Linked DNA regions of Homo sapiens: region 2 is linked to region 1. Evidence: fine-mapped expression QTL. A gene starts in region 1. The other region holds a variant in brackets. All regions are shown on one strand. Distances are from middle to middle. Region 1 holds the start of CDKN2B (cyclin dependent kinase inhibitor 2B). Region 2 overlaps CDKN2B-AS1 (CDKN2B and CDKN2A antisense cis and trans regulatory RNA 1).

What was found.
Region 2: its variant is fine-mapped to the expression of CDKN2B in whole blood (TOPMed, PIP above 0.99). The same link has a PIP of 0.9 or more in blood mononuclear cells and monocytes.

The regions. Positions count from the first base shown.
Region 1 is chr9:22,005,009-22,013,659 of GRCh38, reverse strand. CDKN2B (cyclin dependent kinase inhibitor 2B) reads left to right here and starts at 4,355. Exons shown (of 2, transcript NM_004936.4): 1 at 4,355-4,862; 2 at 7,413-8,651. The coding sequence starts at 4,707. The coding sequence ends at 7,673. All of the region lies in intron 1 of CDKN2B-AS1 (CDKN2B and CDKN2A antisense cis and trans regulatory RNA 1), which reads right to left. It also overlaps the pseudogene UBA52P6. RefSeq lists silencers at 2,396-2,690, 4,814-5,013.
Region 2 is chr9:22,026,967-22,035,617 of GRCh38, reverse strand. It overlaps CDKN2B-AS1 (CDKN2B and CDKN2A antisense cis and trans regulatory RNA 1), which reads right to left. Exons shown (of 19, transcript NR_003529.4): 2 at 6,024-6,185; 3 at 2,632-2,944. Among named protein-coding and RNA genes, the nearest start is that of CDKN2B, 22 kb to the right of the region's middle. RefSeq lists enhancers at 5,468-5,547, 8,395-8,651. The variant T/C (reference allele first, on the strand shown) is at 5,179.

The DNA.
Region 1 (8,651 bases):
GCCAGATGGCAAGACTTCATCTCTTCAAAAAAGTAAAAATATTAGCCAGTCATGGTGGCCAACACCTGTAGTCCCATCTACTCTGGAGGATGAGGCAGGAGCATCCCTTAAGCCCAGGAATTCGAGGCAGCAGTGACCCTTGCTCACAGTATTGCACTCCAGCCTGGTCGACAAGGTGAATGAAACCTGTCCCTTATAAGAAAAAAAAGAGAGAGAGAGAGATACAAGAGACTGTAGCAATTTCAACCAATTTCAATATCCTAGCCTTATTTTAATCCTTATTCAAATGAATAAATTATTAATAACAGTTTAAAAAGAAATGAAAAGTAAAATGTGTAAAAATTAAGATGCTGTTGTTATGGGTTAAATTCTGTCACCTCTAAATTTTTATATTAAAGTCCTAAGCCCAATACCTCACAATTTGACCGTATTTGGAAATAGAGCCCTTAAAGAAGTGACTAAGTTAAAATAAGGCCATTGGGGTGGGCCCTAATCCAATCTGACTGGTGTCCTCAAAAGAGGAGGAAATTTGGACACACACAAGAGATCCAGGGGCACGTGTGCACAGAGGGATGACTATGTGAAGAGGCAGCAGTAGGATGGCCATGTGCAAGTCAAGAAGAGAAGCCTCAGGAGAAGTTAAAACTCTGAGAAAATAAATATTTGTTGTTTAAGCTACTCAGTCTGTGGTATTCTGTTATGGCAGCCCTAGCAAACTAATACGGATACTAAAATGATGAACAAGTCCACCATTTAATTAATCTTGAAAAATACATGGGAATATAGAAGTGGATATACTGTGGATCACGGAGCAATAAACCCAACTCATAAAATGGAGAAAATCAAACCTCTTGGTGGGAAGGTGTGTTCATAAAAAATTTGAAAAAGCCCCAAAAGTGATTATGAATTTCCTTCTCTTCTCACTTATAAACACTATCTTAGTCCTAATCATATGCAAAAGTGTGCATAAATGAGGGCAAGGTTAGGTCGCTGTTTCTCTTGGCCAGTCAACCAGTTCTATTCATACTTTTTTTTTTTCCAGTCAATGAAAGGGACACTTTATTGAGGCTCCAGGGCCATGGGGCCTGGGCAGGAGGCTGCCCTCCGAGGAAGGAAGAGCCTTATTTGACCTTCTTGGGGTGCAGGTTGTTGGTGTGGCCACACTTCTTCTTGCGGCAATTGACAGCATAGGGGTGCAGGAGAGCATAGCGCTTATGGCAGATCATCTTGTTTCAGCTGTATTTCTAGGTGAGCTGGAAGAGTGAAGGCTCAATAATGCCACCTCGCAGGTGCAGCACCAGGTGCGGGGTGGGCTGTTTCTGGACGTTGTAGTCTGAGAGAGTGCGGCCATCCTCCAGCTGTTTGCTGGCAAATATCAGACGCTGCTTGTCAGGGGGGATACCCTCCTTGTCTTGAATTTTCGCACTGACATTCTCAATGGTGTCACTGGGCTCGACCTCAAGGGTGATGGTCTTGCCCGTGAGGGTCTTCACAAAGATCTGCATCTCTGTGTCTGCAGCTCGGCTGCCTCGCTGAAGAAAAAGAGGATGGCAGATCTGTTCATACTTCTATATCAAGGTCATATACAGACAATTTCACCAACTAGAATATAAAAATATTATTACTAGTGATCTGAGTTATGTGCAACATTGGAATGGATGCCACTCATTCCCTTCTACTGACCTCCAAAATTCTATGCCAATTTACCATTAACTTTCTCTTTCTTTCTTCTCAATTATAAATTCTCCACCTTATTAAAAGACATGGCTCTGACAATTCCAAGTTTCAGCTGCCCACTATGTTCCCATCCACTTCATCTTTTAAATGTGTTTAAAGCATTAACAACAGATTGTGTTTCACCCTAGAGACAGCTGGGTTTCAAGGAGAGGTAAAATGTTTCATAATCTCACTCTATTGTCCAAGACAAATGTGCTATTGTATTACATGTGAAATGTCATCTTTGAAGTCTGGTAAGGGTGTGCTGTGAGGTGAGCCATCTGGAAAACACAGTGTAGACTGAAAAATAATTATAAGCCAGTTTATTACTTTTTTCCAGTTAAGCCTACCATGACAGCTGCTAAAAAAAACACTATGTAGTATAAAGGGTAAAAAGACTCTGAAGTCGCAAAAGTTATACCCACCTCCAACAATGATTAGCTAGTATACAAGTCACTCAAATTCTCTGATCCTTTTGGCTTGTCTGTAAAATTGAAATATGGACACATGCCACAGAGGAGTTTTATGAGTATTAAATGAAACAACAGCTGTAAAGCACTTCGTACAGAGTACACAATAAGTTTGATTTCTCTTCTCGTCTTCTAAATATAGACTATATAATATTCTTTATACAGAGAATATTAGATAAAATCCAATCATATTTGAAAACCAGGTTGAGCAGGTTGGTTTTTCAAAGAAATTCATTGAGCTTCCATAATGTCCTTTCTATTTGACGGGAGAAAAGGGGCTTTGGAAGATCAAGTGTGAAGCTTTAGAATTCTGTCTGGAGCTGGTTAGGACCACCCAGGCCTGAGTATAAGCAAAGCGCTGTCCGTGGTGCTAGTAAGCGCGAATGCCCCCGGCAACGTTTTCCCTACCCAAAGTTGTTTTTCATTCAGTCAACTTGCTTCGCGAAGCTCACACATCTGCCTCGTGCAAGATTCTCAGTCATTTTACTTAGTCATTGGTTCTTTCCCTATCACCATTCTTTATGTCCCCCTCAAAGAAAAACATTATCTTCCATTTCCTTATCAACTCCAAACAGCTTTCATTTTTCTGACATATTTACTACCTAAGAAAATGGCTCAAGAATTGGGTCAGACTATCTTGTCCTAACTTTTCTGATAAGTTTCAGAGAAACTCAAAGGTCAAAACAAGAGCATAAGAGTAAAAGGTAGAGAAATTAAGAAACTGAAGACTAGGAAATGGGGGTTGGATGGGAAAGAAAAAGAAATTGTTATTAATGCTACCCGGTTCCCTTCCCTGTCCAGGTGGATTTCAGCTCTGTTGAGGCTCTGTCAGTAGATTTTCAGCCCTAACCAGCACTTCCATGGTGGTGGCACTTCCACTGCCTTTAAAAGAAAGAGCTTTTTTTAATTCTACAGGGATTTGGGGGATGAGGAGTCAGAGCTAAGGTATCCTAAAAAAAACATGTGAAGACTCTCATTTTGCAATACACAAGCAATTGCCCTCCTGTTAAGACTTTGTCTTCCTCAGCACTCCGAACCAAAATGATTCTGTAAACAAAAATTGTTCACTTTTAGGAGAGGTCCACTTATGCAGTTCCTCACCAAAGTTTTTAGGCAACAAATCCATAACTTGCGGTTCTCTTCCTATCCAATGTAGCATCCGCTGAAATGTTTTAAATATTTTAAGTAATAAATGTTGATTCAAACTCACCTAGGAAGATTAGGAAGGGGAAAAAAAGCACTTGGCATTTAAATCTTCAGAAGAGAATTTAATGACAGGTTCAGCCTGTTTAATGACAAGCCCAGCACCACACCCCTCTCTTATGATGTTTCATTATTACTGCATAAATTTCCTTTATTACTCATGATAAATAAAAATAAGATACCTGACAAAGTGGGTTTAAATAGGTAAGAGTGCAAACAAAGATTTACTGTACAAATATGATGAAACTGGGATCTCAGATTCTTAAAGTATAATTTTTTTTTGTCTTATGTGTGCCAGGTTGCCACTCTCAATCTCGAACTAGTTTTTTTCTCTTTTAAGGGTTGTATCCATAATGCAAAAATGGAAAGAATTAAAAAGCACACGCAAAACATGATTCTCGGGATTTTTCTCTATTTTTATGGTTGACTAATTCAAACAGAAAGACACATCCAAGAGAAAATTGCTAAGTTTGATACAAGTTATGAAACTTGTGAAGCCCAAGTACTGCCTGGGGATGAATTTAACTTGTATGACAGGTGCAGAGCTGTCGCTTTCAGACATCTTAAGAAACACGGAGTTATTTTGAATGACTTTCTCTCGGTCACAAGGGAGCCACCAACGTCTCCACAGTGAAACCAACTGGCTGGCTGAAGGAACAGAAATCCTCTGCTCCGCCTACTGGGGATTAGGAGCTGAGGGCAGTGGTGAACATTCCCAAAATATTAGCCTTGGCTTTACTGGACATCCAGCGAGCAGTGCAGCCAGCATTCCTGGCGGCTCCCTGGCCCAGTCTCTGGCGCATGCGTCCTAGCATCTTTGGGCAGGCTTCCCCGCCCTCGTGACGCGTCGGCCCGGGCCTGGCCTCCCGGCGATCACAGCGGACAGGGGGCGGAGCCTAAGGGGGTGGGGAGACGCCGGCCCCTTGGCCCAGCTGAAAACGGAATTCTTTGCCGGCTGGCTCCCCACTCTGCCAGAGCGAGGCGGGGCAGTGAGGACTCCGCGACGCGTCCGCACCCTGCGGCCAGAGCGGCTTTGAGCTCGGCTGCGTCCGCGCTAGGCGCTTTTTCCCAGAAGCAATCCAGGCGCGCCCGCTGGTTCTTGAGCGCCAGGAAAAGCCCGGAGCTAACGACCGGCCGCTCGGCCACTGCACGGGGCCCCAAGCCGCAGAAGGACGACGGGAGGGTAATGAAGCTGAGCCCAGGTCTCCTAGGAAGGAGAGAGTGCGCCGGAGCAGCGTGGGAAAGAAGGGAAGAGTGTCGTTAAGTTTACGGCCAACGGTGGATTATCCGGGCCGCTGCGCGTCTGGGGGCTGCGGAATGCGCGAGGAGAACAAGGGCATGCCCAGTGGGGGCGGCAGCGATGAGGGTCTGGCCAGCGCCGCGGCGCGGGGACTAGTGGAGAAGGTGCGACAGCTCCTGGAAGCCGGCGCGGATCCCAACGGAGTCAACCGTTTCGGGAGGCGCGCGATCCAGGTAGCTGGGGCCCCAGGGCCTCGCCGGCAGGGGGCGCGCGAACGCGGGGCGCGGCCTCGGCGGATCGGGGCTGGAACCTAGATCGCCGATGTAGATTTGTACAGGAGTCTCCGTTGGCCGGAGGTGTGCATTCCACGCGTAAAACAGGCTTTTACCCAGCAAAAATCCTAAAGAGAGACATTGAAAAACCCACTGTTTAAGCTTTTTTTAGTGGTTTTTGTTCTGCCATCTCATGATCAGAGATGCAAGGAATAGACTGAATTGGGGAGAAAAGGAGAAAAGGAAAGCTTATTTAGGGAAGAAGATTATCTTGTCTGTCTGCTTTCAACGATAAAGATAAGTAAAGTATAAGTTACGCATTCTAGATTGGATTTAAGGAATTCTACAAAATCATAGTACATGGAAAAAATCAATGTAAACTTCTAAGCTACTATATGAAATCTGTTGTATTGTTTTCTCATAGAGGTTAATTGAGAATGAGACGGGATTCCTCAACCACAGTACTTAGTTCCTTTTATGTTAGCAGTGTCTTATGAGTGATGCATAAGAGAAAAAATATATAGTTCTATAGGTTTCTCATTCTTTAATTATCATACTCAGTGCCCAGATTACAAAAATATTCCTGCAGCAACTGTTAGGTCCTTTTTGAATGGCAAAGGATCTTCATAAATAATGCATCTTTATCTTCATTGTTAAAATACACTTATTCAATGTTTAAGTACGAATCCTGCTTTAATTAGTACTGATATTTTTTATTTCTTTTACAATCTCGGACAACTCTTTTGTACTTTACCGTTGGCTAGTGGTCATATTCAGTACTCACCTCACTATCACCCTCTAAAACTAAGCTAATATTAAGGGATCTTGTTAATAGTATAGATTTTAAAGAAGTGTTCATTTCTTTTGAATTCTTAGAATAATGGTATAACAAATGAGGGATTTTTAAAGGAGCAAAAATATTGTAAAGTGCATCTTAAAAACTTAAAATTTTATTAATAATTATAAAAACAAGTTATATATGTAATTCACCATTTTCTGAAATACTAACAGCAGCTATTTTCCCCTTTTTTTCTATGTAAAATATCCTTACATCACTAGTAGATATAACTTATCACGGTTTTTAAGAGATGAAATGAACATTTCTAATATTAATGAAACAAGCCAACAAAACATGAGAAGTATACTGCCTTTCAATTAAATGGTATATTTTAAAGTGCATAAACCCATAACAAATAACTCGATTTTAGACATTTAGTTACCAAAAATTGTCTTATAATTGACTTTAAATATGACAGCAAATGTTTTCATAATGTTCATGTACACAAATGGCTGCTACAGGATTACTCCTGCAAAACATCATTTTTTCTAAGTTATGCATCATCCTGATTGACTGCTAACATCCAAGCTCTATTTATTTATTTATTTATTTTATTTTTTTTGAGATGAGGCCTCACTCTGTCGGACAGGCTGGAGTGCAGTGGCACAATCTCAGCTCACTGCAACCTCTTCCAGGATGCAAGCGATTCTCCTGCCTCAGCCTCCTGAGTTGCTGGGACTACAGGCACGCCCCACCATGCCCAGCTAATTTTTTATTTTTTGTAGTAGAGACGGGATTTCACCATGTTGGCCAGGCTGGTCTCGAACTCCTGACCTCAGGTGATCTGCCTGCTATGGCCTCCCAAAGTGCTGGGATTACAGGCATAAGCCACTGGGCCTGGCCCAAGCTCTTTTTATATAGCAAAATATTTACTGTTTAACATTTTTAAATCTTAGCTATTATAAAATCCTGTAGTATACAAATATAGTTAGTTTTATATTACATTAAAAATATTATAGTCTAAATTTAAAATGATGAACTGTTAAGGAAAAATCATTTATTATAATTTTATAAGATTTTGCATGATTTAATTTACTTTTCCCTTCTAATCTCCAACTTTGGCTCAAATTATCACACTACAAGCCAGTTATGAGCTCAGACACATGACAAACAAAAGCCTTCCGCACGGGATTTGCTATGAGAACTAAATAAATTAAAAAAAAAAGAAAGAAAAAAACTTAGTTGTTTATTTTCTCCCCTAAACCATTACTCCCAACTTCTAACAAACAGTAGTTGACTACCTAATAAATATTTGTAGACCTGGATTATGGAGGAGGGGTCAGCAAGGCAAATAATTTAAAACTTTAAAAGCCGAATAAATTTAACTCTGCCCCTAAATCATTTAACAAAATAGATTCCCATGTTCCAATGGAAATCAAGATTTGTTTTTCCATAATGATGATCATCACTTTACCATCAACTTTCTTGTCTCTGCACGTTTAGAGAATAAAATGGCATTTAATTTGTACTGAGTATAACCTGAAGGTGGGGTGGGAAAGTGGATTGCATCAGCAAATGAAGAAACACCAGACATCAGAGACCTGAACACCTCTGCACTGGGTGAAAACTTTGCAATTAGGTGTTTCTTTAAATGGCTCCACCTGCCTTGCCCCGGCCGGCATCTCCCATACCTGCCCCCACCCTGGCTCTGACCACTCTGCTCTCTCTGGCAGGTCATGATGATGGGCAGCGCCCGCGTGGCGGAGCTGCTGCTGCTCCACGGCGCGGAGCCCAACTGCGCAGACCCTGCCACTCTCACCCGACCGGTGCATGATGCTGCCCGGGAGGGCTTCCTGGACACGCTGGTGGTGCTGCACCGGGCCGGGGCGCGGCTGGACGTGCGCGATGCCTGGGGTCGTCTGCCCGTGGACTTGGCCGAGGAGCGGGGCCACCGCGACGTTGCAGGGTACCTGCGCACAGCCACGGGGGACTGACGCCAGGTTCCCCAGCCGCCCACAACGACTTTATTTTCTTACCCAATTTCCCACCCCCACCCACCTAATTCGATGAAGGCTGCCAACGGGGAGCGGCGGAAAGCCTGTAAGCCTGCAAGCCTGTCTGAGACTCACAGGAAGGAGGAGCCGACCGGGAATAACCTTCCATACATTTTTTTCTTTGTCTTATCTGGCCCTCGACACTCACCATGAAGCGAAACACAGAGAAGCGGATTTCCAGGGATATTTAGGAGTGTGTGACATTCCAGGGGTCGTTTGCTTTTCAGGGTTTTCTGAGGGAAAGTGCATATGAAATCCTTGACTGGACCTGGTGGCTACGAATCTTCCGATGGATGAATCTCCCACTCCAGCGCTGAGTGGGAGAAGGCAGTGATTAGCACTTGGGTGACGGCAGTCGATGCGTTCACTCCAATGTCTGCTGAGGAGTTATGGTGAACCCACAACTTAGGCCCTAGCGGCAGAAAGGAAAACCTGAAGACTGAGGACAAAGTGGAGGAGGGCCGAGGTGGGCTTCAGTAAGTCCCCGGCGGCGCTTTAGTTTGAGCGCATGGCAAGTCACATGCGTAAACGACACTCTCTGGAAGCCCTGGAGACCCTCGCCCAACTCCACCAGATAGCAGAGGGGTAAGAGAGGATGTGCAAGCGACGACAGATGCTAAAATCCCTGGATCACGACGCTGCAGAGCACCTTTGCACAGGATGCTGGCCTTTGCTCTTACTACACTGAGGAGAGATTCCCGCGGGTTCCGCAGGCAGACTACACAGGATGAGGTGGTGGAGTGGAGTGAGAGCAATTGTAACGGTTAACTGTAACGTTTTCTTTCACACACACACACACACACACACACACACATGCTAGGATGCGGAAATCCCCTTATGACTTGCTACTTTTTGATTTTGTGATATTTTGTACTTTTTAGTTGTTCAGCAACTGTCTTATTTAATGGGGAGATTTTA
Region 2 (8,651 bases), 22 kb before region 1:
CAACATTCCACAAGTAGAACAGATGCATCCAACCCCTCGTGGAACCACAGACCAAGCTAGGCACACCTAGACTTTCCCACTCACAGGGCCACCAGGGCTAGTCTGAATTCAAATCAATAGAAGCTTACTGCCATGGGTATAGGTGAGACCCATGTTTGACGCCAATCAACATATTCACGATTACCCAACAAGGAAAATAAACAAACACATGCACCCATATCTATGTAATTCTTTTCAAAAGAACTTGAAGTAAAGCAATAAGAACTGAGAGAGAATGGTATTAGTTCTATCTTAGTTCTTGTTGCTCTACTTCAAGTTCTTTTCAAAAGAATTAGTTTCATAATTATGAAATAAGCACCAACAAGAACTAGAATTTCAGTGATGAACCAGCAAAACAGTTCCAGCTGCCCTCAGCAGCACTTATTTTCTCTAAATACCTTAGTTAGACAACAACCTAAAAAAAAAAGATAAATGTTTAAAATAATACAGTAATGATAAGAATCATTATAGTCACCATTTATTAGGCATCTATTAGATGCCAGATATTTTGCTATATTTAGCTACATAGCTTACTCCTCATAGTAGTCTTGTGAAGCAGGTTTTATTATCCCCATTTTACATATGAGAAAACTACATCAAATCTAAATTAAATAACTTTCCTAAAACTACCCAACTAGAATGGCACAGCCATAATCAAACTCTAGTTGAACTCCTTTCACTATACCACAGGTTAGCAAATTATGACCCTTATGTCAAATCAGTCTTGCTGCCTAATTTTATTTTTAAAAGTCTTATTGGAACATAGATACTCCTTCATTCATGTATTGTCTATGGGTGAGTCTTTATTACAACAGCAGAGATGAGTAGTTGTGACAGAAACTCGATGGCCCTCAAAAGCGAAACAAGCTACTATCAGGACCTCTATAGAAAAAGTTTGCCAACCTCTACACTGTAGTATGCCTTAAGGATTTTTAGAAGATTGAGTATGATAAACACTTTCAAAGAATGATGAAATTCTGAGAAATGGGAGTTAATTGTCATCAATTTCTTTGTTAACAGCTACACTAAGACATTCTGTCCAAAACCAAGTTGGAGAAAGAATAGTTGCGTTTCAGAATACAAGAATTTGAATTTTATTGACTACTTCATCTCTTCCCTAATCCTAACTCGGGCTTCTTTTCACCTCAATTTCTCCCAGGATATCTCACCAAAGTAAACACCTAAGGCAGAAAGTCAGGGGGGAACACAATGAAAAAGTAGTGCTATAGCTTCACAAAACTTTTAATTCCATTTTCATTTCTACCACCTATCATAGAGGCACCCCAAAAAAGAGACATGCCAAACTTCAGGGTTTAATTAGTTTAGGCAAGTCTGGGTGGGTGAATTTATAGACCAGAATAATAGAATTTTAATATGGAAAGCACATAAAGTAATAACCAATTGAGAACCAGGTAACAACAAAGAAGAACCTTCTCTTATCTATCCCACCACATGTTCAACATGATCTGGCCTAAGGCCACATTGTATCTGTATCTATTCACCATCTTTCATATATTCATTAACTTCATGTCTTTTATCGAAGTTACACCTTTGATTTTTTAAAAAGCATGGTTTGGGGAATCAAGCATACTTGGGTTCAAACCCTGCTGTAGCCACCTACTACTTGTATAATCTTAAGCAAGTCAGTAAACCACTTTAAGCCTCAATGCAATATAAATGTAGTTGGTTTTTCATTGAGTATAAAGAAACTGGAATGAGATAGCACATTCAGTGCCAACAAAGCATCTGGCACGTAGTAGGCACTCTGTCAATAGATGGCAAACACCAGCGTTATTCTTACAAAACAGGTGAAACTGCATCACCTCAGTCTCTTCTTGGACCAACATCAGCAGGTGTTAATTGTTGGAGCAAGTGGCATCTCACTACTCAAACTATGGATGATAATCTGCTGGCTGCATACTGTATAGGAAAAGCATTTTTACCTGAGAAAGATAACTTTCAACTTTCTAATCTAGCCTTGTACCAGTTGCAAATAATTGTTATTATATGTTATGCTTTATAGACAGCCTTGTTTTTAATTATGAGGTTTTTATTGGAGTGGCAGGTTTCAGGGTAAGTCTGCCATCTGACTTGCCAGTACTTGTTAAAAGTTTTTATAGTGTGACTCATTTACATATGCATGTGTATGTTTAGGTGCTATTATTAAATTTTGCTGGCATATAGTGAGGAAATTGTGATTCAAATTCGTCCGTATGTACTCCTCCCCCACCATCTGCTCTGCCCCTCCATTTACCAGAAGGCTAGCTTTAGCTACTTGTGCATGTAAAACAGAAGCAAGCAACACTGTGAAAGTGAAAATCTTTTAGGTAGTGTAGTGCAGCGGTGGTCCCCAACCTTTTTGGCACCAGGGACTGGTTTCGTAAAAGTCAATTCTTCTGCAGGTGGGTGGGGGGTGCTCTGGGTTGAAACTGTTCCACGTCAGATCATCAGCCATTAGTTAGATTCTCATAAAGGGCGCACAACCTAGATCCCTTGCGTGTGCAGTTCACAATAGGGTTTGTGCTCCTATGAGAATCTAATGCCACTGCTGATCTGACAGGAGGCGGAACTCAAGCAGTAATGCTTGCTCACCTGCTGCCCACCTTCTGCTGTGCAGCCTGGTTTCTAACAAGCCACAGACCAGTACAAAATTAAAAACACTGGGCATGAGGAAATAATATTCACGCTTTAAATTGTCTTTTCTATTCACTACACTAGGGCCACAGTCTGTGGCCTAGGGGTTGGGGACCCCTGGTGTAGTGAAGAGAAAAGACAATTTAAAGCATGAATATTATTTCCACATGCCCAGTGTTTTTAATTTTGTAGAGGGAATCCCTGCAGGAAAAATCATCTTCACATCCAAGACAGCAAGTGGTATTGATGACAGATCAGTGCTATAAATTGCCTGTGGAAGAAAAGAGAGAGAGAGAAAATGAGTGTACAAACAAAGCTCTTTAAAAGAATAAAGACACTCCCATAAATAAAAAAATGAAAACTCAAAATGGCATGGACAACAATGAATAAACTCCACAGTGATTCAATAATACCAACAGCCAAGCCTTTGTTGAGCACCTTCTACAGATGCACCTCAGGCATGAAGCCCTAGGCAGCACACTGTGGATACAAAGTATAAATAATGACATTTTGTAGATACAGACATTGCTTTTGTGTTTCCAACTGCTCTATTAATTTAAAGTACGGAAAAAGTAGAAGGAATGAAGGGAAGGAAGGGAGGAAAAGGGGAAAGGAGAAAAATGGGAGAATAAGAGAAAAAGAAAAGGTGTCCAGTGTTAGAAGTCACAATTCTATCAGAACTCCAAGTGCCTGGGGCTCACAACCACATGATTCTACCTCCACTGAATCACTTCTGGAATGACTTTTGTAGACTTATGTATAGCTGAATCACAAATGACCATTCTCCCCCCAAAAAAAACCTCATAGCTTAAAACACCCATGAATTCTGAGAATAGCTCTGCTTCACAATCTCTCACAAGACTGCAATCAAGGTGTCTACCAAGGCTGGGGGCCTCATCTGAAATCTCCCTTAGGGAAAGATTTGCTTCCCAGCTAACACAACTGGCTGTTGGTAAGATTCATTTCTTTGAGGGATATTGAACTGAGGGCATCTGTTTACTGCTTGCTGTTGGCCAGAGGCTGCCCTCAGGTCCCTGCCATGTGAGCCTCTCTTCTGTGGCAGCCTGCTTCATCAAAACCAGCAAGAGAGGAAGTACTCTGGCAAGACGGAGGTCGCAATCTTCTGTAAACTTATCAGAGAGGTGACCTCTACTCTACTACCATATTCTATTGGTATGAGCAAGATACTCAAGTGGAGGGGATTACACAAAGCTGTGAATAGTAGAAGGCTGAGAAAACCAAAAGCTATCTTAGGCTAACCTACCGCAACTTGGTGATCTGCTCTCAGTTTCTTTGTTTCATCTTTTATTTTTTTTCATATTGACCTATATTCAAATTACCACAAAATAATCAGGTCTAAATACAAAAAATTTTACTTTTAGCTCTAAGTTTCCTTAAAGAATTTGGTATCAATTACAGTAAGAGCACTGGGTTGATCTAAAGAAAGCATGAGTATCAGGACCAATTCTAGCAATTTACTATGAGATTTTATCCATGAACCTGCTTTTCTCATCTTTAAAATGGGTATAGTTATGCCTTCTCTATTCACCTCATATAACTATTATAAAAACTAATGAGAATAATGTATGTTAGTGTTTTCCAAAGTGCAGTAACAAGCACTGGAGGTACTTGAGATGATTATGGGTGGTATATGGACTGTAGGTGTAACTCTTTTAAGGTATTTGTTTTAGAGTGTATTAGAAAAACAAAACTTGCACAACAAACCCATGATTTTACAAATTATGTGCTTAAGTGAGACTTCAGTAAAGTTTTTAAAAGGGTGAGTGAATTTGAAGAAAAATGTTAAGAAAATAACATAATAGGTGGTCTGAGAATGTGGCATGCATTGTGAAGGTGATATATACAAATGATTGCATAAAAAATAAAATGCCCCACAAATACATTGAATTCTGTTTATTAATTAACGTTCCATGATGCCGGTTTAAGAAGCTAAACAAACATATTCATTGTTACCATAAGAGCAAACCTAACTACACCTGGTGAAAGAAATGACCCCTTGAAAATTCAATTCTAAATTTTTTTGTCCACAAGAATCCATCCCCTGTTATCAATAAGACAGTTATATCTTTTGTTCCCTGATGTGTTTTTCTTTTCCTAGCAATGTATTAATGATAAGTTCCATTTATTAGGGGATCACTGTATGCTAGAATGTACATATACTATTTCAATTAATACTTACCTCATAAGAAAAATAGTATTATTATATCCTGTAATGAGGAAACTAAATCTTAAAGAGGACTAAAGTCACTTACCTAGTAAGTTGCAGAGCTAGACCTGAATTTACATTCAGGTCTACTTAATTGAAGCCTGAGTAAAATCTACTCTGCCAGTAGTTTTAAAGGGCTGAACTTCCATTCACTATGTCCATACCTCATCTTTTTCCACCTCTTACAATTTTACATTGTGTCACTGTAACATTTTTTCTCTGGCATATGGGAAAATTTTTCAACACCAGGGCAAACAAAGAGAATGAGTCATTTATTG[T/C]CAAATACCCAGATAGGAAGTACAAACTAAATAGAGTAAAAGAAGCAATCTCTTCCTAGCCCAAACTCTTACACTGACCCCCTAAGGGCAAAGGAACACAGAAAAGATGAAGTTCAGACACTTCCTAAGGTTCCTGGTATTGGCTACATTTTTCACTACTTCCCCTGTATAACCTCCACGCCAATGATAATTCTACAAGCAAAAAGCTGAAATCTACATTACAAAAGAGGAAGTGTATTGTCTATGTACTCTAAACATGTGGTGAGCTGTTTAACTGCAGAGAAGTCTCTCCTCAAGAAAAGACAACATCTCCCTTCTGTTTTTCAGTATGACATGTGAGTTTTGAGTAAAACCAGATATTTCAAGTTATAAACGTAACTGAAATGTGCTTCTCTTCAAGAAGAACTTTTGGCTTTATGTCTTTAGATCTAACAAAATAGACTTAAAATCGATTGTAAGAAAACTGATTAGTAAAGTTATAGCTCACTACAGTGGGAATTAGAATTCAGGATATTACAGAGAGTGAAATAGTCCCATATAGAAAATATTACTTTCTATACTTAAATTATCCACTATCCATTTTGTAATAGAAAACACATTTTTCCTAATTTAAATCATGTAATATTAATATTACAATACTAACATCTTAGTGATTATAAATACAAGATAAAATAAACTGTCAGAATAAACACATGAAAATGGAAAGTTATAAGAAAATATTTGAAAACAGGTCATCAAAATATTTTCTAATAATGTAAAGATTAAATTTGGAAGAGAACATTTCCCCAAGGCTCTTCTTTTATCACACAGACCTGAAAGATGATGGTTTCCCAAACAGCACTTACAGCAATAGGTGTGGGCCTCAGTGGCACATACCACACCCTAACTACCACAAAGAAAGTCATGGGGGCCAGGACGGAGATCAGATGAGAGGAGCTGAGGAATCATCACAGCATGGACACCAATATTCTCTCTTGGAATCCTTTGAAATGTCGTGGCAAATAGTCCTGCAAAACATCCAAAAAATCTGGATTTGTCAGACAAGTCTCTATGTGATTAGATTCAGACTAAACATTCCATCAGGAATCCCATTAGATAAACTTCAGACCACACATGATCAGGCTCTCCTATTTGATAAAGACGGTAATAGCTTTCTCTCTCTCAAAGCACATTTTCTCTTTTTAATTAATGAATAAATCTACGGAGTGATATCCTGAGACTATTCTGTTTCTCAACCACTGTCTACCAATGGTTTTGTCACCCTTTGGGGAAGGGGATCAAAATATAGTGATTTTCTAATTCTAAGATTCGTTCTGTGTATATTAGCTGCTATTCTTCTAGAAAGAAGACTTTCACCACCGTCCCTTGGATTTTTTTTTTTAATTTTTGTATGGTTTAAATTGCATCATCATTCTTTTTGATGTCCAAATTGTCCCAAATTAAGCCAGTTAGAGAAACAAGTTCATTTTCAAAAATATGGAGATGCTAAATTGTATTATACCATAATCAATCTGTGTTTCATAGTAATATGGTGGTATTGTCACTTATATTTATCATTGTTACAATTATACTTTAGTAATTTATTTGTATCATGCCAAGGAAAGGAGTGGATATCCTTAATCAATTCAAATCTATAATGGCAGAGTTTTCTGAAGTGACACTGCATAAATGTTTCACAAACCATACATAAAGATCAGTCACATTGTTTTATAAATGAATCTGATACTTTGCTGTTAAGTTTCAGGTACTATTTTGAAACTACAGTGCCAAATTAAACACCTTAAAATTGCCTTCATATTTTTTTCTTAACTTTTGATTTTAATTTGTTTTGAAACTTTCACTCCAGCACTGCCTAGCTATATAACCACATTAAGTACAAATTTGAGACTAGGGTGTCAACATTAAAATCCTAAAACTGCCATCATGATGATACTGAAGTTTATGATTCTTTTTTTAAAGTTTCATTTTAACTATGTCTTGTTTAAAACCCTAGCTAGTATTAGCTACTGAATTTTGAAAATTCATTTAACATGTGAATAGCAAAATTAGAAACCTAACACTGCCTTAATTTTGGTACTAAGTTCTGTATTTTGAAACTTTTATTTTAACTCTGCCAAGGTTTTTCTGAGATGAACAATCAGTTTGCAATCAGTTGATGATTATTGAGATAGTGGTTTTATTATTGATTCACTCATATAACAAAAAATATTTTAAATATTTTTATATGTTTTATATGTATAAGAAATCAATATTTTATCAGATGGGAGGAGCTGAGGAATCATTATAGCATGGACACCAATATTATTTCTTGGAATCCTGTGAAATATCCTGACAAATAGTCCTGCAGAACGTCCAAAAAATCTGGATTTGTCAGACAAGTCTCTATGTGATTAGATTCAGAGTAATCTAATCTAGATGAGTCTGAATGAAGATATTGATGAAGATATTGATTTCTTAAAAGCCAGATCTTGTATGTTTTATGATATAGTATAAAACATGGAGCATATTCAATAAAACATAGCCTCTTTTATTTTTATTCAATAAAATATAGCCTCTTTTAATTATTCCTTCACATTTCTTTTTCAATTTATTTCATTTATTTTTCCTTTCCTTACAGCATCAATATTATTTCACATTTCTGTTGTGTGATTAACTTTACAAAAGAAATTGCTATCCCTCCTGGAATGTAAGAGCCATGAACAGGAATCTTTTACTCTTTGTCACGGATGTATTTTGAGGACCGAAAAGAGTGCCTGTGACATAACAGACACTCAATAAATATTTGCTGAATGGCTATTTGATAAATTGGATAAATCAACATAGAACTGTACCCCAAAAAGAGTAACCATGAAAAAAGCAGTCTTCATTCAGAAAGGTCATTATTTTTGGATGTTTTTTCTAATACTAATATTGTTTTGTTCACTTTCTATATTTGGTAAGAATGAATAGAGAGAAAAATTTTCGAGAGACTCTTATCAGCGATATTATGTGATAAACGCCTTCTCCTGGCATTTTTTCTGAGTGCTTTTATCCTGTCCTCTGAGTTTTTTCCAATAGATTCTTCTGCATTTGAATGTGAATTTTATTTATTTCATGAGATATGTTCCTTATATAAAAGCAATCCAGGAAGAGCTGGACCTAGAATTTTTAAAATAAAACAGCTTAACAATGTAAATAAATGTAAAAAAATTCATAATGATTAAATAAATTTAAAGAGAGAGAAGCGGTAGATCAACATGTTATTAATTTTTTTTTTTTTTTTGCTAGAAAGGTTTAGGGCAGGAGTGGCCAAGATGGCCAACTAGAAGCAGTTAATGTGTGTGACTCTCACAGGGCGGAAAGAAAGGGGTGACTAAATATAGCACCTTCAACTGAAACATTAAGGTACTCTCATTGGAAGTAATCAAGGAAACAACTCGACCCACGGAGACCAGAGCAAATCAAGGCAGGAAGACAGCCCACTTGGGAAAGAC